2 separate regions of the Homo sapiens genome follow, and region 2 is linked to region 1. Evidence: fine-mapped expression QTL. A gene starts in region 1. The other region holds a variant in brackets. All regions are shown on one strand. Distances are between the middles of the regions. Region 1 holds the start of RETNLB (resistin like beta). Region 2 holds the start of LOC105374033 (a long non-coding RNA gene).

Region 1 (15,744 bases):
CTGTGGCTTCTCTAGCCTCCACCACACTTTTCTCTTTCTTTTTACCTCCTTTCTCCATTCTCTCCTTCTCCCAACTCTCCTCTCTCATTATCCCTTCCCCAGTGTTCCTTCTTGTAATCATTCTCCACCGAGTATCTCTATCTCTCACCTCTGCTTTTGTGCACATCTAACAGCTGAACCAGTTAGCCAAGTATTACCATAAGTAACTTTACAATGAATACTGCCAGGAACAAAACTGTTGCCTTTATAGACATTTTCCAGCATTCTAAGAAGCAATAATACTGGACGCATCAATCCACTCAGCCACCCTAGGGCACTCCTTTTGCGACTGGAATGCAATCTTCTTCTTTAACAGACTTGTACCTGATTGAAATCTTGATGGGTAAGGATCCTTTATGGTTTCACAGCTAATTGAAAGCATCAGCTCGTCGAGTTTTACAAACCCATTTTTTTTTTCTCTGCTTGATGATGCAGAACTCTGGGTCTTAATCAGGTTTTATACAACCCTTGCCCAGATTCCAACATCATTTCTTGGGGACATTTTATTCTGTCACCAAGAGAACCTATGGCTAATCTCCATTCAGGGGTAGGTCAGCTTCCTCTCTGAATGAGAAAACAAATCTGGATTCTCAATTTTTATGTCTTATATCAATTTGACTAATTTATTGTGTAGTATCTAAAGTATAGGAATCAACAAGATTCATTTCTGTAGAATATAAAAAATGATCAGCCCTTCAATGCCACATCAGAGAGTTCCTCAATTCTAGCCAAAAACATTCTGGAAACTTATTTTTTGGTCTCCTTTTTTTCCAGATACATCATGAGTTAAAAAAATTCAACCTATATTCAAATGTAATTAATGAACTAGAGATATATAATAACACATTATGTTCATGATAAAACATACAAAAATAGAAAATGTTTAATGAAAAACTAAATAAAAACAGAAGCTTTGATATTAACTTCTAAGCCAATGGATTGTCTTATGCACCTTCAGAATTCCACATTCTATGCTGAAGCCCTCTGCTCCCATGTATGAGAAGTCACAGGACTTAGTCATAGGACATGGTCACATCTGTGCCTTAGCTTAGCCTGAAACAGATGAGCCTGTTAGCTTCATCTCCAGCTTCTCTGCCTTTACCTTTCCCAGTTGCCCATACCCGGGTTTATGGTCCCTCTTTTTTTTTTTTTCTTTTTCAGCTGGAGCCCTATGCTAACAACTTCTCAAACTTTATGTGTATAAAATTAAATGAAATACAAAATAATCAGTGGAGAATCGAATGGGGGAAAGGAAATAAGATTTAAAAGGTCATTGTTATCTTTTCTGAGACACCTTCCCTGAACATCCTGCATTATGGACAATTACAGTTACCTCCACAGTTAGGTCGTTGGGAGAGGAGTGCAGTCTTAGGAAGAAGGTAGCTCTAAGGGAAAGGAGAATGTTTAACAGTCTCCACTGGGTTTATCTACAAATTTTGGAAGTAAAAAAACCTTTCTTTCTTCTCCCTGTATAGGGTTTTTCTGAACATTTTCCAAGAATGCTGAGGCAGAAGCTCTATGAGAGAATGACTAATCCCAGGCAATGTCCTTATACCATCAGCAGCGACTACCAAGGGTGGCGACGCTGGCTAGAAGCAGGGTGCATTATCCATAGAGAATTCAAAAGCAATAATAAAGCCTATAAAAGTTAATCTGCTTTTCATTATCACCATGCATGGCAATTCTAAGTAATATCAATGGTAAAATATTCCTCCCCCAAAACATTGTGAATTGAAGTTCTAAACAATTGCTGTGATTACTGTTGAGTTTTAACAATATATATGTAAACTTCAACTTAGTACATTTTTATTATTTATATTTTAATAAACATTGTGTTCTACATGAAAATTAATTCAGAGAACTTCCAGTTATACAGTTGGCCCCAACATACTTGGCCTCAGCTACACACCTTCATTTCTAAAGTAAGAGCATAACAATTCAATACCCAAGTTTGTTTCTAAAGGTTTGTCTCCAATCCCTGTGCTATTACATATTCCTGCCTTTAAACAGTAGATTCTAAAGAAATAATGTAGCCCAGTGATTGTAAAGACAAATTAAACCAACTTGAATTACAGAGCCATTTGATCATTCTATATGATTATGTGAAGTTTAATTGTGTTTAAAATTTATATTGAAACAGTGCAAACTGTGAGGTATATTTTTGTTTGGTAAGTGCAAATTTTAGTTCATATGTAAAATATTGTACTGAATTTAAATGATATATTTAAAATTAAAATTTATCCTTTCTGATAGTTAATTTTTTTGTTTTAATACCAGAGAATGAATCAAAAATAATAATTAGCTCTATTAGTAATCATTACATAATTATTACTGAAAATGATTTTTTTATATAAAGGACAGAAGTATTAAAAAGTGATCCCCTCTGGGTGTCAAGTATGCTAAACATGCCACTGACTACAAGTGTTCCCCGGAGGTGGCCACTATCCCTGCTGTCCAAGCTTATTGTAACCCAGGAGCACTCTTGAGCGTGCCTATCCTCTTCTCTTTCCTTGCTATTCCCAACATATTGATTAGTCAATGCAGCTTAATTCATGTTTCTAAACTTATATGTTTCTGCTCATCCACTGCCCAGTCTTCTGCTTTCTTTATGTGCTTCACTAAAAACAAATAGATTTCTTTTTTCCTATGAGAGTATCTCTGCACATAGATTCACCTGTGTACTGATTACTCACAAATTTATATCTCCAACTCTTACTGTTTCCCTGAACCCCAGATTTGTATACCTAACTCTGTATGCCACAGCTCCCCCTACATTTCTAATAGGTACATTAAATTGACTATGATCAAATATGATTTTATGTTCCCACCATATCTACTGTTCTCCCAGGGAACCCCATTTCAGTAAGTAGCAGCACTCTTCAATAAGTTATTCAAAACAAAACTCTAGATCTGTACTTCTCTATTTCTTCTACACCTTGCATACATCAGCAAACCCTATGGAGGCTCGGTTCTCACTCCTTCCTTGATTATTCTCCAAGACCTAGAACTCTGTAGAAGCCTGCTGCCTGCTTTCCCTGCTTACATCTTACCTGTTTTCCCTCCGCGGTGTCTCTTCCACAGTGGCCATAGTAAGCTTTATAAAACATTAATCAGGGCCAGGCACAGTGGGTCACACCTGTAATTTCACCTTTGGGAAGCGAGATGGGGGGATCACTTGAGCTCAGGCATTCAAGACTAGCTTAGGCAACATAATAAGGCCTTGTCTCTACAAAAAAAAATTTTTTTTTAAATAGCCGGGTGTGATGGCACACTATTATAGTCCCAGCTACTTGGAAGGCTTAGGCACAAGGATCACTTGAGCCCAGGAGTTTGAGGCTGCAGTGCCATGATCACACCACTGCACTCCAGCTTGGGCAACAGAACTAGACCCTATCTCCAAAAAAAAAAGAAAAATTAAACATTAGAAAACCATAAATCATTTTATGTCACTCCCCTGAACAAAACACTACAATAATTTGCTGTCAAATTTATAATAAAATCCAAAGCCCTTACATTGGCTTACAAGCTCTATATAATCTGGCCCTGGTCAGCTCTCTGACTTCTTCTCTGGCCTTCCCCCTATACTTCATTCTGGCCATATTGCCATTGTTGTCATTCTTTCAACACACTAACCAACTCTCTGCCGTGGGCTCTTTATACTTGTTCCACAGGCTAGAACATTTGTCCCAGATTTTCCTGTGACTCACCCCCTCACTTCTTCAGGTCATTGTTACCTTTTCTGAGACACCTTTCCTGAACATACTGCATTATGGGCAATAGCACAGTGGCACACTCTATTGCCTTGTCTTGACTTATTTTTCTTTACAGCATTTCTCAATACTTGACCATATATACATACATATGTATGTATACACATACATACATATGTATGTATACACATACATACATATGTATGTATACACATACATACATATGTATGTATACACATACATACATATGTATGTATACACATACATACATATGTATGTATACACATACATACATATGTATGTATACACATACATACATATGTATGTATACACATACATACATATGTATGTATACACATACATACATATATATATGTATATATATACATACATATATATATATACACATACATACATATATATAAATACAGTATATGTATATACACTGTATTTATCTCCCCCATTACAAAAGGGCAAAGAGCTTGTCTACGTTGTCCACCACTGAGTCAGCAGAGCTAGAGCTGGTAAAGAGAAGCTCTACAAATTTTCATTGAATTAGCAAACAATTAATCAACCCATCATGTATCCCAAATCCAAGTGTATGCTCTTTCTTATTCTCCAGTCTCATTTTTCTTCTCTTCAACTCCTGTCTGGTAATTGAGGAAGCATCCTTGCCTTTTTGCTGGCATCTCCAGGCCTCATTTCTCAAAGTTGCCTGAGAGAGATATGTATAAGTAATAGCTGTTCATTAGAGGGCATCTCCAGGAAAGTGGGCAGAAAGGCTGGTCACAGAGGTAGAGCCCAGCCTTTCCAGCTCTGACTGCCTCAAGGAATAGTCACCTAACTGCCTTTTTCTGCTTCTCATTTTATTTTATTTTATTTTATTTATTTTTGAGGCAAGGTCTTGCTTTGTCATCCAGGCTGGAGTGCAGTGAAACAATCTCAGCTCACTGCAACCTTGAGGCTCAAGTGATCCTCCTGCCTCAGTCTCCTAAGTAGCCGGGACCACAAATGCATGGTACCACTCCCAGTAAATTTTTTTTTTTTGATAGAGTCTCACTATGTTGCCCAGGCTGGTCTTGAACTCTTGTGCTCAAGAGACCCTCCTGCCTCAGCCTATCAAAGTATTGGAATTATGGGCATGAGCCACAACACATGGCCCCTTTCTCTGCTTCTTCATCTGCACTTCTTTAAATTTTATTTATTCATGGTGGCCACATGCCCCATCCTAGATGAGGAATCATGGCATCCTCATTCCTCTTGGCCATATGTGAATCCTCAAAGTCCTCAATCCCTTATCCATTATTCTAAAATCTAAAAGGCTCTAAAGATGAAAATGTTCTGTCCTAAATTTGAGGCTAACTCATTTGGCAGAAAAACTTGGCATGGCCTGGTGTGAGGCTCTTTATGGTCTTTTATTTATCCCACATTAATATTCATACATTTTGCATCAGGCTATTTATGCATTAGACTGCAGAGTGCTGCCCCCAACCTCCTTGGTGGTTTAACATAATATACAGAATTTGCACCTTCCATAATCTGAAACATTCTGAGTTCTGAAACATACCTGGGCCCCAGGTCTTGGATAAGGAATTGTGAAGCCCAGCTCTCTTTTTCAGCCATAGCTGATAGAAAGGGAGGTTGTGTGACCCAGAACCAAACAGTGGAATGTAAGGGGAAATCTTCTTGAGCTTCTAGAGAAAGATCTTGCTCTTAAAATAAAAAGGTAAAGCCCCTACAGAAAGTGGCCTTGCCCCACTCCTTCCTTCCTGCTCAGGGTCTGGGCTGAGGATGTGGCACCTTCTACCTTGTGACCATGAGGAGACAAGATCGAAAGATTAGCTGAGAATGGTGGGGGAAAAAGGGAAACTTTATGAGCCCCCAAAAGAACTCTGGAATCATAAACCATGCTTCTAGTTAAGTAAATACTGAACTTCCTTATTTTTAATCCAGGATTAATTAGTCTTTCTGTGACTTTCCTCCAAATGAGATTGGCCAGGGACAATAAAATGGTGTCTGAACAGGTGACAAGTAGGGCCCTCCCTCAGCCAACAGAGATAAGAAAGAGCATACACTTGGGTTTGGGATAGATGATGGGTGGATTAATTTGTTTGTTAACTGCAAAGTAACCTCTTCCTGATGAAGGATCAAACAAGAAGCCTATAATACCGGCAGACCACAGAAGGCCCAGGTGCTAGCCTTATCGGGTTGCCAAGAAGAAAGGAGAAGGAGAACAAAAAGGCAGGAGGACTCCCTTGGCAGAGATCCAGAGCAAAGGCAGCTGTTGCTTCTCATGAACACTCCAAAGTTTATCACAGTCACCTGTTACCCTAGCTGGCACAGGTCTTTGAAAGTGTGCTGGGAGTGTGTTTACATGTTTGTGTGTGCTTGTATGTTAAAGGTGCCCAGGTTAATACCAGGTGTATTAAAACGCCCTTGCCTGGCTAGTCCTTGTAGACCTTCTCTGAATGTTTTGGTGAATAAATCTGTTCTTCAGCAACCCTACCTGCTTCTCCAAACTGCCTAAAGAGATCCAGTACTGATGACGCTGTTCTTCCATCTTTACTCCCTGGAAACTAACCACGTTGTCTTCTTTCCTTCACCACCACCCAGGAGCTCAGAGATCTAAGCTGCTTTCCATCTTTTCTCCCAGCCCCAGGACACTGACTCTGTACAGGATGGGGCCGTCCTCTTGCCTCCTTCTCATCCTAATCCCCCTTCTCCAGCTGATCAACCCGGGGAGTACTCAGTGTTCCTTAGACTCCGTTATGGATAAGAAGATCAAGGATGTTCTCAACAGTCTAGGTAACTGACTGGGGTAGGGGAAGCGGGGGGTTGACCCTTGCTCATTTCTCCTGTTCTTAAACTCTAGCTTTGTCTCTATCCCATCCCAAGATCCCAACCAAGCCCAACCCCTGATGAGGGCTTTCTACACTACCCTACCCGTGTTTGAAGTCTTGGCTAAAAGCTGAGGTTTTCCTGATGAGGAGGAAGAGGTGGAGGAGAATGGTAGCTGTAATTTATGAACACTCATTATGAACCAGGTATAATCCAAGTTTTACGTAGATTATTTCATTTAATTCCCACAACCATTTTATGAGGTAAGGACAACTATTACTTCTGCTTTAAAAATGAGGAAACTAACCTTAAAAGCTGATGAGTAGGCTGATTCTGGACACAGTGTCACCTCCAAGGTAGAAGACAATTTGGAAGGGGATAAGGGGATTATGGGGAGGATAGCTCATGGGATGTACCCTTTCTTCTTTCCTACTCAGAGTACAGTCCCTCTCCTATAAGCAAGAAGCTCTCGTGTGCTAGTGTCAAAAGCCAAGGCAGACCGTCCTCCTGCCCTGCTGGTGAGTAACTCCCTGAGAGGGAATGGCGACTACGATGCCCTGTATCCTCCCCTGTCCATCTCCCTGCACCTACGTCTTCCCCCATGTCAGGTCTGTATCACCCTGGCACCCTGGGGCTGAGTCATGACTCTTGGTTCCCAGAGACCCCTTGCCCATTCTTGTTTCCCTGAAGGATGCTACTGGGGGATCTTGGGCTTCTGCCTCTTCCTTTCACCCCTTCACTTCATGCCCCTGTTTCTCAGCCCTTCCTCTCCTCCATTGTCCCATAATGATCACATACTTCATTTCTCTTTCCAATCTATTCCTCTGTTTTGATGGGTAGGGGCCAACAGAGAGGTGAATTTATCACAAATCGAAGAAAACTGAAACTCCCAAGTTCCAAGTCTCTCACTTGCATGAGTCTCTTTCATGGCAGCAAATATTTGTTTCTGTGATTTCTGTATTTCTTTTCTTGAAATGAGCTCGCAAAATTGAATGAGCTTGAGGCCCCACGAAACCTAGCTCTACCCCTGACTGCACAGGGTTGAAAGATGGTTGTGGGTAGCCCTTCCTCCTCTTAAATTCCAAGAGCTCTGATGTCTGTGCTTCATGTGCTCATGCAGGGATGGCTGTCACTGGCTGTGCTTGTGGCTATGGCTGTGGTTCGTGGGATGTTCAGCTGGAAACCACCTGCCACTGCCAGTGCAGTGTGGTGGACTGGACCACTGCCCGCTGCTGCCACCTGACCTGACAGGGAGGAGGCTGAGAACTCAGTTTTGTGACCATGACAGTAATGAAACCAGGGTCCCAACCAAGAAATCTAACTCAAACGTCCCACTTCATTTGTTCCATTCCTGATTCTTGGGTAATAAAGACAAACTTTGTACCTCTCTGTGCTTATGTCATCTCTGTTATTGTCCCCAGCTTGGGGCTCCCCTATCCAGAAAATGTTGTCAGTGTCCCAGTGGTGACATCTCAGTTTGGGAAGTGGGATGGGAAGTTAGGAAAGATATGGGAAGAATGGGAAAAACAAACTGACACTCCAAACCCCCACTTCCCTCATTTTTATTTATTTATTTATTTATTTTTTTCTTTTTTTTCATTTTTTTTTTTTTTATTATACTCTAAGTTTTAGGGTACATGTGCACATTGTGCAGGTTAGTTACATATGTATACATGTGCCATGCTGGTGCGCTGCACCCACTAACGTGTCATCTAGCATTAGGTATATCTCCCAATGCTATCCCTCCCCCATCCCCCGACCCCACCACAGTCCCCAGAGTGTGATATTCCCCTTCCTGTGTCCACGTGATCTCATTGTTCAATTCCCACCTATGAGTGAGAATATGCGGTGTTTGGTTTTTTGTTCTTGCGATAGTTTACTGAGAATGATGGTTTCCAATTTCATCCATGTCCCTACAAAGGACATGAACTCATCATTTTTTATGGCTGCATAGTATTCCATGGTGTATATGTGCCACATTTTCTTAATCCAGTCTATCATTGTTGGACATTTGGGTTGGTTCCAAGTCTTTGCTATTGTGAATAGTGCCGCAATAAACATACGTGTGCATGTGTCTTTATAGCAGCATGATTTATAGTCCTTTGGGTATATACCCAGTAATGGGATGGCTGGGTCAAATGGTATTTCTAGTTCTAGATCCCTGAGGAATCGCCACACTGACTTCCACAATGGTTGAACTAGTTTACAGTCCCACCAACAGTGTAAAAGTGTTCCTATTTCTCCACATCCTCTCCAGCACCTGTTGTTTCCTGACTTTTTAATGATTGCCATTCTAACTGGTGTGAGATGATATCTCACTGTGGTTTTGAGTTGCATTTCTCTGATGGCCAGTGATGATGAGCATTTCTTCATGTGTTTTTTGGCTGCATAAATGTCTTCTTTTGAGAAGTGTCTGTTCATGTCCTTTGCCCACTTTTTGATGGGGTTGTTTGTTTTTTTCTTGTAAATTTGTTTGAGTTCATTGTAGATTCTGGATATTAGCCCTTTGTCAGATGAGTAGGTTGTGAAAATTTTCTCCCATGTTGTAGGTTGCCTGTTCACTCTGATGGTAGTTTCTTTTGCTGTGCAGAAGCTCTTTAGTTTAATTAGATCCCATTTGTCAATTTTGGCTTTTGTTGCCATTGCTTTTGGTGTTTTGGACATGAAGTCCTTGCCCACGCCTATGTCCTGAATGGTAATGCCTAGGTTTTCTTCTAGGGTTTTTATGGTTTTAGGTCTAACGTTTAAATCTTTAATCCATCTTGAAATGATTTTTGTATAAGGTGTAAGGAAGGGATCCAGTTTCAGCTTTCTACATATGGCTAGCCAGTTTTCCCAGCACCATTTATTAAATAGGGAATCCTTTCCCCATTGCTTGTTTTTCTCAGGTTTGTCAAAGATCAGAAAGTTGTAGATATGCGGCATTATTTCTGAGGGCTCTGTTCTGTTCCATTGATCTATATCTCTGTTTTGGTACCAGTACCATGCTGTTTTGGTTACTGTAGCCTTGTAGTATAGTTTGAAGTCAGGTAGTGTGATGCCTCCAGCTTTGTTCTTTTGGCTTAGGATTTACTTGGCGATGCGGGCTCTTTTTTGGTTCCATATGAACTTTAAAGTAGTTTTTTCCAATTCTGTGAAGAAAGTCATTGGTAGCTTGATGGGGATGGCATTGAATCTGTAAATTACCTTGGGCAGTATGGCCATTTTCACGATATTGATTCTTCCTACCCATGAGCATGGAATGTTCTTCCATTTGTTTGTGTCCTCTTTTATTTCCTTGAGCAGTGGTTTGTAGTTCTCCTTGAAGAGGTCCTTCACATCCCTTGTAAGTTGGATTCCTAGGTATTTTATTCTCTTTGAAGCAATTGTGAATGGGAGTTCACTCATGATTTGGCTCTCTGTTTGTCTGTTGTTGGTGTATAAGAATGCTTGTGATTTTTGTACATTGATTTTGTATCCTGAGACTTTGCTGAAGTTGCTTATCAGCTTAAGGAGATTTTGGGCTGAGACGATGGGGTTTTCTAGATACACAATCATGTCGTCTGCAAACAGGGACAATTTGACTTCCTCTTTTCCTAATTGAATACCCTTTATTTCCTTCTCCTGCCTAATTGCCCTGGCCAGAACTTCCAACACTATGTTGAATAGGAGTGGTGAGAGAGGGCATCCCTGTCTTGTGCCAGTTTTCAAAGGGAATGCTTCCAGTTTTTGCCCATTCAGTATGATATTGGCTGTGGGTTTGTCATAGATAGCTCTTATTATTTTGAAATACGTCCCATCAATACCTAATTTATTGAGAGTTTTTAGCATGAAGGGTTGTTGAATTTTGTCAAAGGCTTTTTCTGCATCTATTGAGATAATCATGTGGTTTTTGTCTTTGGCTCTGTTTATATGCTGGATTACATTTATTGATTTGCGTATATTGAACCAGCCTTGCATCCCAGGGATGAAGCCCACTTGATCATGGTGGATAAGCTTTTTGATGTGCTGCTGGATTCGGCTTGCCAGTATTTTATTGAGGATTTTTGCATCAATGTTCATCAAGGATATTGGTCTAAAATTCTCTTTTTTGGTTGTGTCTCTGCCCGGCTTTGGTATCAGAATGATGCTGGCCTCATAAAATGAGTTAGGGAGGATTCCCTCTTTTTCTATTGATTGGAATAGTTTCAGAAGGAATGGTACCAGTTCCTCCTTGTACCTCTGGTAGAATTCGGCTGTGAATCCATCTGGTCCTGGACTCTTTTTGGTTGGTAAACTATTGATTATTGCCACAATTTCAGAGCCTGTTATTGGTCTATTCAGAGATTCAACTTCTTCCTGGTTTAGTCTTGGGAGAGTGTATGTGTCGAGGAATGTATCCATTTCTTCTAGATTTTCTAGTTTATTTGCGTAGAGGTGTTTGTAGTATTCTCTGATGGTAGTTTGTATTTCTGTGGGATCGGTGGTGATATCCCCTTTATCATTTTTTATTGTGTCTATTTGATTCTTCTCTCTTTTTTTCTTTATTAGGCTTGCTAGCGGTCTATCAATTTTGTTGATCCTTTCAAAAAACCAGCTCCTGGATTCATTGATTTTTTGAAGGGTTTTTTGTGTCTCTATTTCCTTCAGTTCTGCTCTGATTTTAGTTATTTCTTGCCTTCTGCTAGCTTTTGAATGTGTTTGCTCTTGCTTTTCTAGTTCTTTTAATTGTGATGTTAGGGTGTCAATTTTGGATCTTTCCTGCTTTCTCTTGTAGGCATTTAGTGCTATAAATTTCCCTCTACACACTGCTTTGAATGCGTCCCAGAGATTCTGGTATGTGGTGTCTTTGTTCTCGTTGGTTTCAAAGAACATCTTTATTTCTGCCTTCATTTCGTTATGTACCCAGTAGTCATTCAGGAGCAGGTTGTTCAGTTTCCATGTAGTTGAGCGGCTTTGAGTGAGATTCTTAATCCTGAGTTCTAGTTTGATTGCACTGTGGTCTGAGAGATAGTTTGTTATAATGTCTGTTCTTTTACATTTGCTGAGGAGAGCTTTACTTCCAACTATGTGGTCAATTTTGGAATAGGTGTGGTGTGGTGCTGAAAAAAATGTATATTCTGTTGATTTGGGGTGGAGAGTTCTGTAGATGTCTATTAGGTCTGCTTGGTGCAGAGCTGAGTTCAATTCCTGGGTATCCTTGTTGACTTTCTGTCTCGTTGATCTGTCTAATGTTGACAGTGGGGTGTTAAAGTCTCCCATTATTAATGTGTGGGAGTCTAAGTCTCTTTGTAGGTCACTCAGGACTTGCTTTATGAATCTGGGTGCTCCTGTATTGGGTGCATAAATATTTAGGATAGTTAGCTCCTCTTGTTGAATTGATCCCTTTACCATTATGTAATGGCCTTCTTTGTCTCTTTTGATCTTTGTTGGTTTAAAGTCTGTTTTATCAGAGACTAGGATTGCAACCCCTGCCTTTTTTTGTTTTCCATTGGCTTGGTAGATCTTCCTCCATCCTTTTATTTTGAGCCTATGTGTGTCTCTGCACGTGAGATGGGTTTCCTGAATACAGCACACTGATGGGTCTTGACTCTTTATCCAACTTGCCAGTCTGTGTCTTTTAATTGCAGAATTTAGTCCATTTATATTTAAAGTTAATATTGTTATGTGTGAATTTGATCCTGTCATTATGATGTTACCTGGTGATTTTGCTCATTAGTTGATGCAGTTTCTTCCTAGTCTCGATGGTCTTTACATTTTGGCATGATTTTGCAGCGGCTGGTACCGGTTGTTCCTTTCCATGTTTAGCGCTTCCTTCAGGAGCTCTTTTAGGGCAGGCCTGGTGGTGACAAAATCTCTCAGCATTTGCTTGTCTATAAAGTATTTTATTTCTCCTTCACTTATGAAGCTTAGTTTGGCTGGATATGAAATTCTGGGTTGAAAATTCTTTTCTTTAAGAATGTTGAATATTGGCCCCCACTCTCTTCTGGCTTGTAGGGTTTCTGCTGAGAGATCCGCTGTTAGTCTGATGGGCTTTCCTTTGAGGGTAACCCAACCTTCCTCTCTGGCTGCCCTTAACATTTTTTCCTTCATTTCAACTTTGGTGAATCTGACAATTATGTGTCTTGGAGTTGCTCTTCTCGAGGAGTATCTTTGTGGCGTTCTCTGTATTTCCTGAATCTGAACGTTGGCCTGCCTTGCTAGATTGGGGAAGTTCTCCTGGATAATATCCTGCAGAGTGTTTTCCAACTTGGTTCCATTCTCCACATCACTTTCAGGTACACCAATCAGACGTAGATTTGGTCTTTTCACATAGTCCCATATTTCTTGGAGGCTTTGCTCATTTCTTTTTATTCTTTTTTCTCTAAACTTCCCTTCTCGCTTCATTTCATTCATTTCATCTTCTATTGCTGATACCCTTTCTTCCAGTTGATCGCATCGGCTCCTGAGGCTTCTGCATTCTTCACGTAGTTCTCGAGCCTTGGTTTTCAGCTCCATCAGCTCCTTTAAGCACTTCTCTGTATTGGTTATTCTAGTTATACATTCTTCTAAATTTTTTTCAAAGTTTTCAACTTCTTTGCCTTTGGTTTGAATGTCCTCCCGTAGCTCAGAGTAATTTGATCGTCTGAAGCCTTCTTCTCTCAGCTCGTCAGAATCATTCTCCATCCAGCTTTGTTCTGTTGCTGGTGAGGAACTGCGTTCCTTTGGAGGAGGAGAGGCGCTCTGCGTTTTAGAGTTTCCAGTTTTTCTGTTCTGTTTTTTCCCCATCTTTGTGGTTTTATCTACTTTTGGTCTTTGATGATGGTGATGTACAGATGGGTTTTCGGTGTAGATGTCCTTTCTGGTTGTTAGTTTTCCTTCTAACAGACAGGACCCTCAGCTGCAGGTCTGTTGGAATACCCTGCTGTGTGAGGTGTCAGTGTGCCCCTGCTGGGGGGTGCCTCCCAGTTAGGCTGCTCGCGGGTCAGGGGTCAGGAACCCACTTGAGGAGGCAGTCTGCCCGTTCTCAGATCTCCAGCTGCGTGCTGGGAGAACCACTGCTTTCTTCAAAGCTGTCAGACAGGGACAGTTAAGTCTGCAGAGGTTACTGCTGTCTTTTTGTTTGTCTGTGCCCTGCCCCCAGAGGTGGAGCCTACAAAGGCAGGCAGGCCTCCTTGAGCTGTGGTGGGCTCCACCCAGTTCGAGCTTCCCGGCTGCTTTGTTTACCTAAGCAAGCCTGGGCAATGGCGGGCGCCCCTCCCCCAGCCTCGTTGCCGCCTTGCAGTTTGATCTCAGACTGCTGTGCTAGCAATCAGCGAGATTCCGTGGGCGTAGGACCCTCTGAGCCAGGTGTGGGATATAGTCTCGTGGTGCGCCGTTTCTTAAGCCGGTCTGAAAAGCGCAATATTCGGGTGGGAGTGACCCGATTTTCCAGGTGCGTCCGTCACCCCTTTCTTTGACTCGGAAAGGGAACTCCCTGATCCCTTGCGCTTCCCAGGTGAGGCAATGCCTCGCCCTGCTTCGGCTCGCGCACGGTGCGCACACACACTGGCCTGCGCCCACTGTCTGGCACTCCCTAGTGAGATGAACCCGGTACCTCAGATGGAAATGCAGAAATCACCCGTCTTCTGCGTCGCTCACGCTGGGAGCTGTAGACCGGAGCTGTTCCTATTCGGCCATCTTGGCTCGAGATCCTCATTTTTAAACAAAAAGATGGCTGTGCCAGACATACTGCTTGGCAAGGGGTAAAGAGAAATAAAATAACACACCCTTACAGAGCTCACCAACTAGAATAACAGGCTCCGAGCTATGTGTGAGATTTTTCAAGGGATGGGCAAGCAGGGGTAGCTTTAAGGGAATCTATTTCTAGATTTTCAGTGTGCATATGTACTCTTTACTAAATTCAAGTGCCTGAGACGTGCTTTGATCAAGGTGACTTCTTTCACCATTGCCTTTCTCCCACATAACAAAAGAAAACCACAGCCCTCACCTGTCACTGAATCTTATTATCCTGGGGTATAAAAATCTGCAGAATGCCAAACAAGAAGTGATTAAAAATATGGGCATCCACAATGAGTGTATGAATGATCCAGTGATGGGGTAACAAGTCCTTTCACGGCTCGGGAGGCTTCCATGGTTTGGTCTTTATAGGATTGAAGGAGGATATAATGCAATTGTCAATTGATGAATCACCAAAAATAATTTTTAATAATAAGTTGGTGTGTGAGATTGTTGACAAGTCATTCAAAAGGAATTCAGACAAATTGAACGGCATTACTACAATAAACACTTTTTCTTTCTATCTACTTAATTATAAAAAGTAGACATGTCAAAGCTGGCAATTATGAAAAGAAATAGTAAGAATGGCTGGGTGCGGCGGCTTATGCCTGTGATCCCAGCACTTTGGGAGGCCGAGGGGGTGGATCACTTGAGGTCAGGAGTTCGAGACCAGTCTGGCCAACATGGTGAAACCCTGTCTCTACTAAAAATACAAAAAAATTAGCTGGGCGTGGTGGCTCATGCCTGTAATCCCAGCTACTTGGGAGCCTGATGCAGGAAAATTGTTTGAACCTGGGAGGCGGAGGTTGCAGTGAGCTGTGATCGTGCCACTGCACTCCAGCCTCCAGCCTGGGCAACAGAGCAAGACTCTGTCTCAAAAAAAAAAATGCTAGGAATATAATGGTTCTAGACTGTATGTCACTCTAGCGAAATGTCCATGAGTATATAAACTACTTGGGTGGGAGGAGAAGCTCTTTCTCATTTAAAAAAATATAGTTATGAAATATTGTTTGGGTTTATTAATTACTTATAAAAATTTGTTATAACTGCTCTGTTCAAATATGCACTGTTAATTATTATAATAATAGGTATACTCTTATTTATAGCTGCTGCAGTGAGTCTTTTAGAATAGAAAGCAGATAATGTCACCTTCCTGTTCAAGTCTAGTGACTTCCACAACATGAAAAAATAAAATCTCAAGGCCAACTAAATCCTGCATTCCCTGGTCACTGGCTATATCTCTAACTTCATTTGTAACCCTTGTTCACCCTGGCCATATCTGCATTCTAGGTATTCTCTGTCATAGCCACCCTCCCACCTTGAGGCCTTCCTACGTCCTGTCTCCCAGATAGTTACACAGTTCTCACACAAAAGGTCAGTGCTCAATTTTTTTCAGAAAACCTTTCGCATCACCTCTAACTCTTGCCCTGTTTTTTTTTTC
Region 2 (15,744 bases), 20 kb after region 1:
GGCCAATCCCTGAATGCATGGCCCCTCTAGGGAATCATGACCCAGGATCCCAAACCACTGGGAGAAATCTTCACTCTGCTGACTCTGGCATGCAGCACAAATGAACCATCACCTGCTTCAGACACTAAACATGCAATGACAACTCATCCCCCACCCTTTGTAATCTGCAATCATTTATCCCAGGCTGACTGGTTCTCAACATCTCTGGTAAGAAAGAGGGCATAAATCATCCACTGTTATAGAATCGCATAGCCTATCACCCATGATTCATAGACATTCTACTTCAATTCTACACCAGAAACTTAACAATAAAGATTCCTACTTACTGGATGTATTGGCAAAAAGAGAAAGGTTAAAACAGAACCAATATCCAATGCTGATATTCTCTTCCCCATGGGTCCAGTATGAAACACTCTCACAAATTTAGGTATGCTTCTCCTCCAAATGGGAATGCTTATATCAGTTAGCACATAGTGGTTCAGCTTGTGGTTCCATGAAGTAGGGTGTCATAATTTCTCTCCTTGGAAGAACTATAAAAGTATGATTGATTTTCAGATTCTCATCCTAACAAGAAGGTGGTAACACCAATGCAACAACTCTGGTGGGATCAGAAATTAGATTTTATAGTGCTGTTGCCTCCTCTCCTCACCACCTCCAGCCTCAGTACAACCATTACCCATTGCAGCAAAGCTCTTGCTTCTCAAAACTTCATTTCTCTGAAGGTTTTTATCTTATTTATTTATTTTTTTAATTAACAGACAGAATCTTGCTCTGTTTCCCAGGCTGGAATGCAGTGGAATGATTATAGATCAATGCAGCCTCAAACTCCTGAGCTCAAGCAATCCTCCTGCCTCAGCTTCCCAAGTAGCTGGGACTACAGATGCGTGCTCCCACACTTGTGTGATGGTTAATATTGAGTGCCAACTTGGTTGGACTGAAGGATGCAAAGTATTGTTCCTGGGTGTGTCTGTGAGGGTGTTGCCGAAGGAGATTAACATTTGAGACAGTGGGCTGGGAAAAGCAGAACCACCCTCAATCTGGGTGGGCACCATCTAATCAGCTGCCTGCACAGCCAGAATAAAAGCAGGCAGAAGAACGTGGAAAAACTAGACTGGCTGAGTCTTCTGGCCTCCATCTTTCTCCCATGCCGGACACTTCCTGCCCTCGAACATCGGACCTCAAGTTCTTCAGCTTTGGGACTCTTGGACCTTCAACCACAGACTGAAGGCTGCACTGACGGCTTCCCTACTTTTCAGGTTTTGGGACTCGGACTAGCTTCCTTGCTCCTCAGCTTGCAGATGGTCTGCTGTGGGACTTTGCCTTGTAATCATGTGAGTCAATACTCCTTTATAGACTCCCCTTTATATATACATCTATCCTGTTAATTTTGTCCCTCTAGAGGACGCTCACTAATACACTTGGCTATTTTTTATTTTTATAGAGAAGAAGTATCACTAGGTTGCCCAGGCTGGTCTCAAACTCCTGACCCCAAGCAATCCTCCCAAAAACCCAAAAGGTTTTTACTTTTTTTTTTTTTTTTTTTGAGACGGAGTCTCGCTCTGTCGCCCAGGCTGGAGTGCAGTGGCGCCATCTTGGCTCACTGCAAGCTCCGCCTTCCGGGTTCACGCCATTCTCCTGCCTCAGCCTCCCGAGCAGCTGGGACTACAGGCGTCCGCCAACACGCCCGGCTAATTTTTTGTATTTTTAAGTAGAGACGGGGTTTCACCGTGTTAGCCAGAATGGTCTCGATCTCCTGACCTTGTGATCCGCCCGCCTCAGCCTCCCAAAGTGCTGGGATTACAGGCGGGAGCCACCGTGCCTGGCCTAGAACAAAGGAAATTTTTAAGAAATCTATACACTGTTTAGCAATCTTTGCTAATTTGTTATTCATGGATAAAGGTTGGGGAGGTTGTGCATTCCAGAAAGGAAAGAGAAAAAAAATTAAAGTAAGGCCAAAATGTGTGTATGTGTATGTGTATGTGTGTGTGCATTTAGTTCTCCTTACTTTGTATTCAAATGTTGAGTACACCCCACATAAGCTTTGGATGCTGCCCTTTAGATACCTAAAATAGCATAGGCTGTCCTCTCTTTACACTAGAATAGTGGTTCTCAACCAGAAAACTTGGAAATATCTGGAAACATTTTTGGTTGTCACACCTGGCAGAGGCAAAGTGATATTGGCATCTAGTTGGGAATAGACCACAAATGTCAAGAAACTTCATGCAATGCACAGGTAAAACCCCCACTGCCAACAAAGAATTGCCTTGCATGAACTGTCAATAGGGCCAAGGGTTAAGAAATCCTTCCCTAGAATGTGTGCTTCTATCATCAGACATCTCACTCAAAAGGAATACTATCCTTCTAGAGACCTCCATTCTGAAGCTAACATATAAGTGTCTACACTCCCTAATTCTCACAAAGGTTGCTTGTAACCTAAATCAAGGCACAATGGTAATAGGGAATCCCAACATTTTCCCAATAGCTGATGTTAACACTTCTGCATTACATACTAACAATCAGAAGCATATTTCTTACACATGCTTAAATTGGCCAGTGAATAAGTATCCGAAAGCTATTTTGAGGGGCAGATTTCCAATTCTGCAGAAACCATAAAACTGGCCCCAACAGGAAGAGATTTGAGCCACCAGTGAATTGTGTTTTATAGGGCTGTATGCCAACTGCTTTTATTCACTTGTGTGCTCTCTGAATGTTAGAAGCCAGCTTCTGCACATTTGTGCAGCAGAAACATAATGGGTACCATTTGGTAAGACATTGATAATGTAGTAAGCCATCATTCAGCCCTTATTTTTAGCTGTCACATATCCTACTTTTGAGATATTAAGTGTTAGTTTTAGCTAAATAAATCCCCTCTTAGGTGAGAGGGATTTTTATTTTTCCCTCTGGCAAATCCCATAAAGAGGAAATGCTGAAGCACATGATTGATCTGGGAAGGAATATGTTAGTGCTAAGGCTTGGACCTAAGCCCTGGGTATATGGCCTGGAGGTAGAAAAGAAGGCCCTTGATTATGAATAGAAACTCCTGTAAGGCCCTAAGTAGACTGAAAAGGCATCAGGAAGACAGTTCTATAAGGCCACAGGAGCTACTTGCCTAAGCCTCGAAGACTATTTGCATGACCCACGATATAATTTGAGGGAATCTAAGAAAGTTCTCGTTTTAAAAAATGTCCCTGTCTTTTCTGCCTCAAATGCTACCATTAGATTCACTTGTAAAGTGAAGGTGACCAGAAATCTCTGATTCTTCTAGTTAAATACACACATGCATAGAAAGGGTCTCACTTTGAGGCTTACCAGACAGTGTTGTTTGTATAATGGAAGGAACGATAGAAATTAAGGTAGAAAATCTACCAAGGCAAAGTTTACAGTATTCGCTTGGGTCAGCCCTGAAGCTCAGCCTTAAAGGAAGAAGAAAAGGGTAGAGAGGGAGAGTCATTCTCTAATGGTCAAATCTATCTGGGAGAGGGCACCACAGCTGAGGAGAAAGTGTTAGAAATGGTAGGGATGTGAGTATGTGCTTGTGGGAGGCCAAGAGTGAAGGGCTGAGGGAGAGGGAAGAGGAGGCTGAGCACCACCTGAGATTGAGTGTGCTTAGGTGCAAAAATTAGGTTGCCTCCCTCCACAGACTGAGAGTTTCATCAAGAAAAGTTATTATACATATGGCTTAGGGGCTTCACTAATTATGACAAATCCTAAAAGAAGAAGTTTGTGAACTCTTATTAGCCTATGATTGGTTGGCAGGATTAAGATGGACAAGCAGGAGGTTTCATAGGGGAGGAACTTGATGCAACACTTAATGGCCTGTTTATCTCATATAAGCAACGAACACCAGAGGCATAAGTAGGATAAGCACAGATGGTGAGTCAATTCAGTGGTTAATAACCCACTGACTGTAAAATTGTGTAAAATTGTACACTCCCAGAGAAAAATACACATTGGTAAACTATATTGGGTGTGGTCTCCTCTAACTAGAATTATTACACTTAAAAGAAAAATAGGGCCGGGCATGGTGGCTCACACCTGTAATTCCAACACTTTGGGAGGCCAAGGTGGGTGGATCACGAAGTCAGGAATTCAAGACCAGCCTGGCCAAGATGGTGAAACCCCATCTCTACTAAAAATACAAAAATTAGCCAGGCGTGGTGGCAGGCGCCTGTAGTCCCAGCTACTTGGGAGGCTGAGGCATGGTGGCGGGCGCCTGTAATCCCAGCTACTTGGGAGGCTGAGGCAGAGAATTGCTTGAACCCAGGAGGCAGAGGTTTCAGTGAGCCAAGATTGCACCACTGCACTCCAACATGGATGACAGAGTGAGACTCCATCCCAAAAAAAAAAAAAGAAAAGAAAGAAACCATCAGTCTTAATAATCATAATAATAGCTGCTTAAATTGTATAAAGTACCCACATATAATTTATGAAGACATTAAAAAGACTTACTGATGTAGCAGATTTTTTGAAGTATAACCAATACATTTTTGCTCCCACTAACAGCTGCTTCCTAGTTTTCCCAGTTTCCTCACCCATTGAATCATGGAGTCGTTTCTTAGATTTGATTCTGAACATTGACTTCTTTGAATCTCCAGATTCAAAATAGTGTTTACAAATCCAGATTTTCTGAAAGAGAAACTTTGAACTGAATTCATAAATCTTTTTTTAACTAAAAATAATTCAAAGTCTGATCTCGTAATCTTACAAAAAAACAATGTCCCATATCTCAATTCTGCCATGGAAAAGCCAAACATATTATTCATATTGTTTGTGCCATTCTTCTTCCAGTAGTGTGATTCAGGCATCAGAGTTGCCACCTCTTAGATGAAGTTTCCACTGCTCAAGTACCTGTCTCTCTTACACTGAGAAGAACTACAGATTTCACTCTGAGGATATCATCCGCAGGAGGGCGGTTATTGGGGTGGGAAATTGTATGGTGATGTTTGTCTTTGATCTGTTCTCAGATCTTTTATAGAGCTTTCCTTCCTCCCCTCTTCCACCATGTATGTTCCTGGACTTCAGTCCAATGTCGGCTCCTCGCAGATTCCTTACTTCTAAGGCTGTTATATTAGAAATAGGGATGTTATCGGTGGAAGGTATCTGAGTTACTGGCAATGAATTCTGCAGCAACATCAATTCTTGCCTCCTCAGAAGAAAGAATTTGACGGAGGGGCATAAGGCAGAAAAAGAGACCAAGGCAAGCTTCACAGCAGGAAGTTTATTTAAAAGGTTTTAGAATAGAAAAGAAAGGAAGGTATACCTGGAAGAGACCCAAGCAGGCACGTGAAGGTCAAGTGCGATGTTTAACCTTGATCCCAGGACTTTATAGGCTGGCCCACTTCCTGTGACTTGCACCTCTTTCCCATAATTCATCCCTTAGGGTGGGCTGCCCGCATGCACAGTGCCCTCCTTATGCTTGAGAAGTGAGTACACACAAGGAAGTTGTACACATGCCCCTTGGAGGTTTCCTTCCCTTTTCCAGTGATACTTCACCATCTTGCCTCTTAATGCTCTTGCCCTTGCTTACTTGCCCAATACCTGAGATTTTATTGGAATCCCCTTTTTGCTTCTCCCTGGCACCTGCATTCAATTCACACTTTACTGTTAACAGGTGTGGACCATTAGGAGATTGTCTCTCCCCAGTGCCCTTTGCCAATTTATCACTTTTAGAGAGGAAATGTGATGATAATTGCCAAGCCATCACCCAACAATCCTAGTGGGTGGGGGAGAGCCCTCTCCTGCCCCATTCATGCCTGTTTAGCTACCTGTGACAGGAAATTTAGCCATCATTGGCTCATTTTCTTGAAAGACTCAGATAGGATAGTGAGGACTGGTTGCTATTGCTTACGTACTCCATGTCACTAAATGAATCAAAACATTCTCTGCCTTGGACATAATGACGAATGCAATGTTATCAGATTCATAGTACATTTTGGGGGCAAAATATACTCAGTTTTGGGAACAAACATTTGCTTCTTTTTTATATGACAAAAATTATGAGAATTTTCTCTGTTACACCATATTTCAGGTTTCAGCACATGCTGAGGTCCGAGGGGAGTGGGTGGGTGGGTGGCAGATAGCTGAAAGAACACTCAGGGTCCATAAGCAGGTGAAATATATGGCTTTATTATGTTTTCTGTCTCCGTCAGCCTTTGTCTCGGCTGCCTGCTCTGGCTGCTGCCACCTGCACGCTTACAGCTGCACTCCCTGGCCTGCAAGGAGGTGACTCTCCCTTACAGAGTCAGCAGCTTAACCCTTTCTCTCTGTGGGAGCAAGCTGTATGTACAGCATCAACAAGGCAGTTATACCTGTTACAGACAATAGTGACTCAGAAGCAAGTATGAGCTTACACAAACAGGTTATGTAACAACGGAGTTATGTGTCTGTGCTCCAAACTCACCGAGTTACGCTGGTCCAGATGCCTGCCTCAGCCTACTATCAACTGCAGCATATTCATTTTCCTTACATTCTCCAAAGAAAAAAACAAAAAAACAAACAAAAAAACTTGATAAATTAGGTGACATCTAACCTACTTTTTCTTTAAATCCCATCACTTTACGATATACTTTAATGATTACAAACATAAGTTAAAGAACTGCAATATGAATCCACACATAATGGACTAATCTTTGCTAAAAAATCATGGAATGAAGATAAAGGAGAAAGATTACATAAGAGAATGTAAAAGGACGATAGAATACTCTAGGAAGGGAATAAAATAAAGATGGCATTACTGGTCTGGATAATATGACGTAACATGTTTCACCCTGCTACATCCTGCTAAGTAAATGATCAACCCTGGCAATAATGCAGGAGGCAACCAAAGGCAAATTCTGAACAGTGGAAGGCAAGGCAAACTGATTCTAGACCCCAGGGCTGGAAGAATAACATGTTGGTAGTGGTTATCACAAACCCCCACCCAACAGATGAAGGTCATCCGGGTCTAGCATTTTCTGACTTCAGCCTAGCAATGGAAGGTGACATAGGTAGGCTCTCGGTTTTCCTGGAATAAATAGTTGTCTCACTGAAATACTAGGTAAGCTCAGCAGTACTAGCAGTGGGGCATTTGGAAGCCCCAATGACAATTGACAACCAGGAGAATAACACCTTTTCCCCTGAGACCCCCCCGCAACCCATCAAGAGACATCAGGAGGAAAAGCAACACTAGCAGGAGGGATCCTGCCACAACAAGCAGCCAGCCCAGAAAGCTCTCTTCCCACATTGATAGGCACCAAATGGCCCAACCCGGGGAAACTTTCTCTTTCCTCTTAGGCAAAACCAGCAGCAAGCAACCCTATAGATCCACAGGGGTAGGAGTATGTGTAAATTCCTACGACCAGGGCACAATCCCTTAGGGTCTGGGAAAGAAACTGAAGAGGAGTCATTTCTTAGGACTAGGCTCTTCTTTAAGGTCCTCAATTAAAGAAGCCACAGGAAAGACACCTGGACACCTCTGCAGGGACAGCCCTTCTCTGAACAACAAAGATCAGTTGCAGGACCAAGGTAGCATTTGATGCTGAGAAAATCCTTTCTTCAAATATTCCTTGTGTTTTCTGGCTCAAATTCTACCATCAGTTTAATTTGGATAGGTTTAGAAATCTCTGAGTGCTCTAATAAATAAAAATAACTACTTTGGAGCCTTATCAAACAG[T/G]GTTGTATGCATAATGGGAAGGGCTGTGGAAACTAAAGTGGAAAAAAATCACAAAGGTAAATTATATTTATGACACCATTTACTTTGTGGTTCTCATGGAGCTAAGCCCTGAAGGGAAGAAGGGAGAAAGAGTAAGAATATGTCTACTACCAAGAGCTTCCTGAGAGAGGGAACTCTGAGGAGAAGATGATAGAAAGTGTGTGAAAGTGAGGATGTGCTTCAGGAGAAGACATGAGTAGATGGGGTGCACTTAGTGCTCTGAAGGCTGCTTGAGACAGAGTGTGCTTACATGAAAGGACCTAAATGAAAGGGCTACATTTCTTCCAAATACAGGCTGAGGAATTATCTGTGGGAAATGCTCTGATAAGCAAGATTTAAGTGGGGATACGGAAAGCATGGAAAATGTTTATTTAAAGAAGTCAAAGTCCCTAGGCAGCACTGGGACAGACCAGAAATAGGAATCACAGTGAGGGGAGGTGTTACCAGAAAGGGGTCCTGATATGGTTAGGCTTTGGGTCCTCACCCAAATCTCATCTTGAATTGTAATCCTCATAATCCCCATGTATTGAGGGAGAGACCAGGTGGAGGTAATTGAATCATGGGGGTCGTTTCCCCTATGCTGTTCTCATGATAGTGAGTTCTCGCGAGATGTGATGGTATTTTAAGGGGCTCTTCCCCCTTCACTCAGCACTTCTCTTTCCTGCTACCTTGTGAAGAAGGTGCCTTCTGCCATCATTGTAAGTTCCCTGAGGCCTCACCAGCCATGCTGAACTGTGAGTCAATTAAAACTTTCTCCTTTATAAATTACCCAGTCTCAGGCAGTTCTTTATAGCAGCATGAAAACAGAATAATATGGGTCCTGATTCAGGCCCCAAGATTGGGTTTTTAGATCTCACACAAGAATGAATTCGGGATGAGTCTATAGAGTAAATAAAAGCAAGTTTAATAGAGAAGCAAAGAACCAAAAGAGTGGCTACTCCATAAGCAGAGTGGCCCAGAGGGCTGCTGGTTGGCTATTTTATGGTTGTTTCTTGATTCTATGCTAAACAAGGAGTGGATTATTCATGAGTTTTCCAGGAAAGGGGTGGGCAATTCCCGGAACTGAGGGTTCCTCCTCCTTTCAGACCATATAGGGTAACTTTCTGATGTTGCCATGGTATTTGTAAACTGTCATGGCACAAGTGGGAGTGTCTTTTAGCATGCTAATGCCTTATAATTAGCATAAAATGAGCAATGAGGACCAATGGAGGTCACTCTCACCACCATCTTGGTTTTAGTGGGTTTGGGCTGGCTTCTTTACTACATCCTTTTATCAGCAAGGTCTTTGTACCCTGTACCTTGTGCCAACCTCCTATCTCATCCTGTGACTAATAATGCTTAACATCCTGGGAACACAGCATAATAGGTCTCAGCCTCATTTTACCCAGTCCCTATTCAAGTTGGAGTTGCTCTGGTTCGAACGCCTCTGGCAGAGGGACTTAAAGAAGCTAAGTTTATGCTCACCTGAAGAAGACAGAGCAAAGGTTTAAAGTAAGTAATAAAAACTGAGAGGCATGAGAAAATGCAACACTACAGTGGAAAATGATCAAATACATTGTTTAACAAATCATACAGACAATGTTTGTGCCTGATAATCTGTCAATCCAAGTGTGGGGAACAGGGAGCCTGGGGAAAAAGTAGTCAACTCTCAGCTTTGGGTTTCAAAACTGGCATCTTTGAATCCACAGTGAGGCAATATTCTTGACAGCAAGAATTTCCTGGAAAAGATAAGGGATGTTCTACATTCTAAAGCCTTGGCTTTACATAATAAGGACAAAGAGTATAGAGATTTACTTTAAACCATCAGGCAGATAAGATGAAGGTTACACTCTTGGGGAAGTCCTTTACCTTATTTAAAGAAGTCCTTTACCTTATTATTATTATTTTTTATTTATAAAAGCCCTTTTCTGCTAGAATATGCTTGGAGAGATTCAGAGGGCATAGAACTACATAGAGAAACTTCAAGAAGGGACCTCAAGTCATCTTCAAGGGGTCTTCACATACACGCATACTCCTGCCCTATTCTGAGCCGTGGCTCTTCAGAGCCAGGGAAGGATGATAGACATTTTGATAAAAATCCTAAATAAGCTCAGAGTGAATTGAATAACGTCCAGACTAGTGTTCTGCTCCCAAAATTGCCTGGGAATTGTAGAATAGTTAGGGAGAGGTAATAGATAATAATAGATAATCCTGAGATGGTTGGGGAGGGTCTGCAAATAGAGTATAGAAAATCCAAAAATATCAGTGATGGCAAATGGAAACGCTAGAAGGACAAGCAAACAAAAAGTTCCTGGAGTCTAGACCAGGAGGACACAGAATATGAGAAGTTCATAAATAAGATTCTGGATCAGGGATCCCCTCCCTCTGACACCAGGAAATTCTCCCTGTACGCAAACCATTTTTAGAAGACAAAAGGGAGCAGAGAACTCCTTGAGATAGAAGAGCCATGATTGGAAATTAGAACTTCAAAAGTGACTGATTATTTATCTAAAAGTTATTGTTTTTATTAGAAGTAGCTAAGTTTTTTTTTAATTGGCAAGACTATCAAAAATAAAGTAAAACGTGTCATTTGTGTAACAATGTATCATTCTTAAGCCCAATATACTGAAAAATGACTAAGATTCCTCTAAAGAGAATTATGTCCGTGTAAGACTAGAATTAAGTAAAGCATACCCATACCTGTGCAGGTTGGTGACACTCTTTGTGATCTCTGTTCATGTCTGAATTGTATTTGATGAGCTCACTCTTCAAAGTTCTTCATCTCCTCAGCCTATGCATTCTCTTTCACTTCTCACACAAAAGGAGTTCCCTATAACCAGTTAATGAAGAAGGAAAAAAATCTGTGTGTTATGCTGGCACTGCAGGAAAGCTACTGTACTATAGTCTCACTCAGGGCTGGCCCTGACTGACAGCAGTGAAGGAAAATCCTCCCAGAGAGCAGAAGTTTGGCTGGAACATTGGGCTGCCCACCACATTTGGAAGAAAAAGCAGCCGGAATTATGACCATACACACATTTGTAAACACCCCACAGCCTAATGAATTGGCCAATGACAGAAAAATGGTGACGAGGGAGACTACAGGAAAGGGAGGGAGATTTTAATAATCAGAATAAGGAGAGACATCCTGTAAACCCCCCAGTTTCCTCTCTCCCCACCAACTCCAGTGCTTGCTCAGTGGGAGCATGCACAAAGTGGTGATGGAAGCAGAAATGAAGAGCACCCTAACAGCATGGAATTCCCCTTACCAACGCTGGTCTGTTTAACACCGTTGCTGAGTATTCAACTTCCCAATGTCAGAAGTTAGTGCTAGGCCTCCAGTACAACACCAGTCCCCATAAGGTACCAGCTGACCACCTAGTAGCAGGTTGTTTATATCGGACACCTTTCATGATGGAGGATGCAACGCTTTACTTAAGTCCACAAATGATAATGCCTTATCATCACCATAGTATCCTATACATCACTTCTGTCTAGAGATCACATTTTATGTGTGGGAATTAAGGTGATGGGCTCATGCCCATAGAATTCACTAACTGTACCATGTATCCCATAACACAGAAGTACCTGGTTTGATGAATTAATGATATATTCTGCTGAAGTCTCAATTCTGTTGCCATCCTTCAAAATTGGGAGGCATTCCTGCAGAATGAGGTAAATGCCTTAAGCCAGCCCCATAGCCAGAATGCACATGTCTGGGAACTACAGAGTAGAGGTAGGAGCGTTTCCTACCTCTACTATTACATCAACACATTGGAGGATGTTTTTGTCTCACCTACAACCCTGAGCTCCAAAGAGTCCTAGTATCCAAAAGAAAAATGCTTTTGATAAGGAATAGAAGACATGGTTTCTGTGAATTGGAAGCTAAGACTGCTGCTTGATCAACTGGAAGATAAGACCGCTTCCAAGAACTATTGATTCTCATGCCACTGAGCCAATAAGCAAATAAGAGGGTTTCTGTATTACCTAGTGTATTGTATTGACTCCAATTATAAAGAAAAATTTGGTTGCTGCTGCAAAATAAGGCCAAAGAGGACCACCAGGGAGTCATTGGTGCACTTCTTAGTACTTTTGCCCAGTAGTCCTGAAAACCTTGGCAACTAAAGAAAGAGACACTAAAAAGTCAGATCCTACAGAAATGAAGAAGCAAAACAATTTTCCCCAGCAGGTAAAGAACTCTCTTCAGCTGAAGTCTGGCAGAGAGGGTAGGGAACACAAAATGTGTGGTGGAAAAGACGCTACAACTGTCAACCAAGGCCTCATGATGAGCTGCAGAAGCAGAGACATTAGAAGCTGTGTTTTATATTAATCAATGGTTTTTCTTCCTGATTTCTCCCCATTAACTTCTATGGGAAACACTGAGCGATGGGTAATGCTTTAGGGTTTAGTTTTCAGTGGAGAGGAGTATTTCAACCCAGGCTCCTTCCAGTCTCTGCTGGTCACTGTGTTCTTCTACCAAGGCCAGAGCTCCTGCCAAGTCTACATTTCTCCTGCCATGAGTCTGTCTCCTGGTTCCAGGATCTACTCCTCCCCGCTGACCCTTTATTAGGTTTTCCAGCCACTCAGCCGGCTAGTGTGTCCCATCTCTCTCCTGCTAAGGTCCTGACACACATAGATGCCATTAACAAGTCCCCCGACATGCAACAGGCTCCTTCCTTTGTATTTCAGGGGGGTAGAAAGGGTTCTTTTAAACCATTTATTACCTGGTATTATATAGGTTACTTTAGAAACTTTATAGAACTTATATATTCTAGACAATCATATATTTTAGACCTGCCTGCTCCCTCTGTTTACAAAAGCTCTTATTAATGTCTTCATTTCTATCACATTGCTACAAACAAAATTTGGTCCTTAGTGCTTCAAAAAGAATTACACTTAATGAGCAGCCACTGTATGCCCAGCACTATGCCAGGAGTTTTGCACACAGTTTATCATTTAAGTGTCACAGGAAAGGCAAATCCCCTCTTCTTGTTGCACAGGTCAAATATTTTGGAGACACCCTTGACCCCTCTTGTCTTCCTTATACCTGGCACATAGCGGACACTCGATGAATGCTTTGAATGAACCAATAAACAATGCTGTGGTGTAGATGTTACTTACATGTTGCAGAAGCAGCTGAGGGCCATTGAGAAATTTGCCTGAGGTGACACAGCTGGGAAGAGCCTGAGCTGAGAGACCCTAGCCTTGCTTTTTGTGTTTCTAATGTCACGTTTTCCCTTGGCCAGGATGCTCTCCAGTGTGGAGCTCCATTTTAGGCTCTTGACTGCTCTTTCTGACCCTGCCTTGGGTGTTGCAACCCACTGTGCCCATTGGTGTTAAGGTTCTCTTTCCTGAAATCTTGTCTTGACAAATTGTTCTCCTACTCAAAAACTTTCATGCCCCCCGCCCCTTAGTCTGCCTGCCAGACTAAGCTTACCACCTTCAGCTTTGCACTGGTGCCCTCCACAATCAATTTCAATTGACCCTTCCAACCGTATTTCCTAACCTTTCTCTAGAGAATCTCCATTCCATTGAAATGTGCCTTTTCCCTGGAGCTCTAATCCACTATGCAGTTCTTTTTTCCCTATGTATTTGTTCAACCCATTTCCTCTACCCAAAATGCCCTCCTGGCACCACTATCCATCCCCAATCCCTTATCCCTGCCTATAGAAAGCCACCTGTTCTTGAAGGCCAGGAGCAGACATCCCATCCCCCTCTGAAGCTCTCTCTGAATAATCTCAGTGCCAGATCCTCCAGAGTGCTTAGGACAGAAAGTTTTACATAGTAGAGGGTTCAATATTTTCTTATAAACTACATCATGCTCTGAAACTTAAATGAAGTACAACTGAGATCTGGGAGCTAATTACACAATCTTAGTATTGTGTATTTATTTCAGAGGTAAGACATACATGCTGTGTGGAGAGCATTGTCTTTGCAATTAGACAGATGGACCTTCAAATCTCATCTCTATTCATGATCTTTCATAAAGTTGGTTGATTTACTTAACCTTTAGAAATTTCAGTTGACTTTTCTGTAAAATGGGGATAATATTACCTTCTTGATAGAATTTTTATAATGATTAGATGGGGTTTTTACACTAAATGCCTGACACCATGATTGACACATAGAAAATACTCAGTAAGTGGATTACACTGGAGCCATCAGAAGCAGGTGAGCTATTATCATGGAATCAGAAAATCCTATACCCACAAGCACCCCAACAGTCATCCAGTCTCAGCCTGCCCTGCCGCTCTTCACCAGCCACCAACAGCAGGCTGATAAACACCAAAGATGTCACCATGATGGTTACAAGTGCCTTCTAAATGAATTTGTGGTTTGGATCACAACAAGTACCATGTAATTCTGACTGAAAGAGATACAGACTGCTAGAGTGTAAAGTGGATTGTCCCTAATTAGAATGAGCATGATCAGTTACCCAATCCTAAAAACTGACAGAACTTTTCAGGGCACAGCAATATCTAGTGGACCATCTACTAAAGGACTTCTTTATGACATGCACCACTGTTAATCATATTCATAAGCCCTTCCATCTCAGACGAGGGGTGATTGAAATGAGTGCTGGATGTCTGAGTAGAGCTGGGAAGATAACATCTTTCAGACACAGCAAAGGAAAGCCCCTTCAGATGAGTGAGCTTGAAAAGTCACCTGGGCTCAGATATATTTAAACTATGTTCTTGAGCTTGTAAATGTCTATGTTTACTGGGTATTGATTTAATGTCTTAAATATCCCAACTTATCAGGAATTGGACTGGATAGGTTGCTATGAGACTTGAAAAACTGGGGCAAAATGTAAGAAACTACCTATTATCTGATTGGCTGAATGCTCATCTTTAAGGGTATGATAGCATTAATATAATGTTCTTTTTATGTATGGGAGCAATGAATTCCATGGAGCATAAAAATAGTACCAACCCAGTCAATAAGGGACTAACAGTATTGAGGTCTGTTTCTCAACTGTGAACTTGTTCCATGACAGGTGAATTTTTGACTGAATTCCAGCCCAATAGCCTCAGAAGAATGGTTGGATGAGAGGTAATTGATGAGCATCAACTTCTGCAATGCTCCCAAGTACAAGGGCAGCTGAAATCACCACCTGGTTATGAATCACAGCCATGTCTAGCCCTTCAAATAAAAATGGGCTCTGGTATGAAAATTTGTCAGTTTGAGATATATCTCATACCTAAAAATGTCTCTAACCAACAGGAACATTACCACCATGAAAGTGGATATTAAACCTCTTTCCCCTGAGGCACTCTGAGTTCAGTGAGAAGACCATGGTTTCAATCAGAGCAATCTTAGGGATCATAAGACAAAATTGGAACCATCTGGGAATAACAAAAAATGTCAAAGAACAAAAATTACCAGGCTTAGGTGAAATCTTTGTAAAGTGCTGTGTGGCACACTGGCTTGGATATATGGCTTTTGCTTTGTGTTTTGTTGTAAGTACTTATCTTTGTTATGCATATTATGAATGCATATTATTTAATTGTGATGTCACAAGGTCATTGGCCTCAGGCTTTTGAAATAATTCTATTGCTATATCGTAGCTGAGGTTTTCCCGCAGAATGATCAGGGGATCATTTCTCATTGGCTAATCTAAAAATATGAAAAAAAAAAAAAAAAGCCAGAAATAATTGGGAGATTACAAACAACCTTGAAAAGAAAGATATGGGAGATGACCAAAATGAACTATAACATATATAGCATACATTATGGTCCTAGGTACAGAAAATGCTCTGTACTTCATAGTTAGATGTGCCAAGCTCTTTTTTTTTTTTTTTTTTTTTGAGACAGAGTTTCGCTTCTGTCGACCAGGCTGGTGCAACCTCCGCCTCCTGAGTTCAAGCGATTCTCCTGGTTCAGTCTCCCGAGTAGCTGAGATTACAGGTGTGCACCACCATGCATAGCTAATTTTTGTATTTTTAGTAAAGACGAGGTTTCATCATGTTGGCCAGGCTGGTCTTGAACTCTTGACCTCAGGCGATCCACCCACCTCGGCCTCCCAAAGTTCTGGGATTACAGGCGTGAGCCACCGTGCCCGGCCATAGCTCTTTGGT

What was found. PIP is the estimated chance that this variant, and not a neighbour inherited with it, causes the effect.
Region 2: its variant is fine-mapped to the expression of RETNLB in transverse colon (GTEx, PIP above 0.99).

Annotation. Positions count from the first base shown.
Region 1 is chr3:108,747,869-108,763,612 of GRCh38, reverse strand. It overlaps RETNLB (resistin like beta), which reads left to right and starts at 6,203. Exons shown (of 3, transcript NM_032579.3): 1 at 6,203-6,554; 2 at 7,025-7,105; 3 at 7,708-7,975. The coding sequence starts at 6,428. The coding sequence ends at 7,835. It overlaps LOC105374034 (a long non-coding RNA gene), which reads left to right and starts at 15,351. Exons shown (of 6, transcript XR_924323.2): 1 at 15,351-15,677.
Region 2 is chr3:108,727,565-108,743,308 of GRCh38, reverse strand. LOC105374033 (a long non-coding RNA gene) reads left to right here and starts at 15,679. Exons shown (of 4, transcript XR_924321.1): 1 at 15,679-15,744. LOC105374034 (a long non-coding RNA gene) reads left to right here. Exons shown (of 6, transcript XR_924323.2): 5 at 2-207; 6 at 783-820. The variant T/G (reference allele first, on the strand shown) is at 7,652.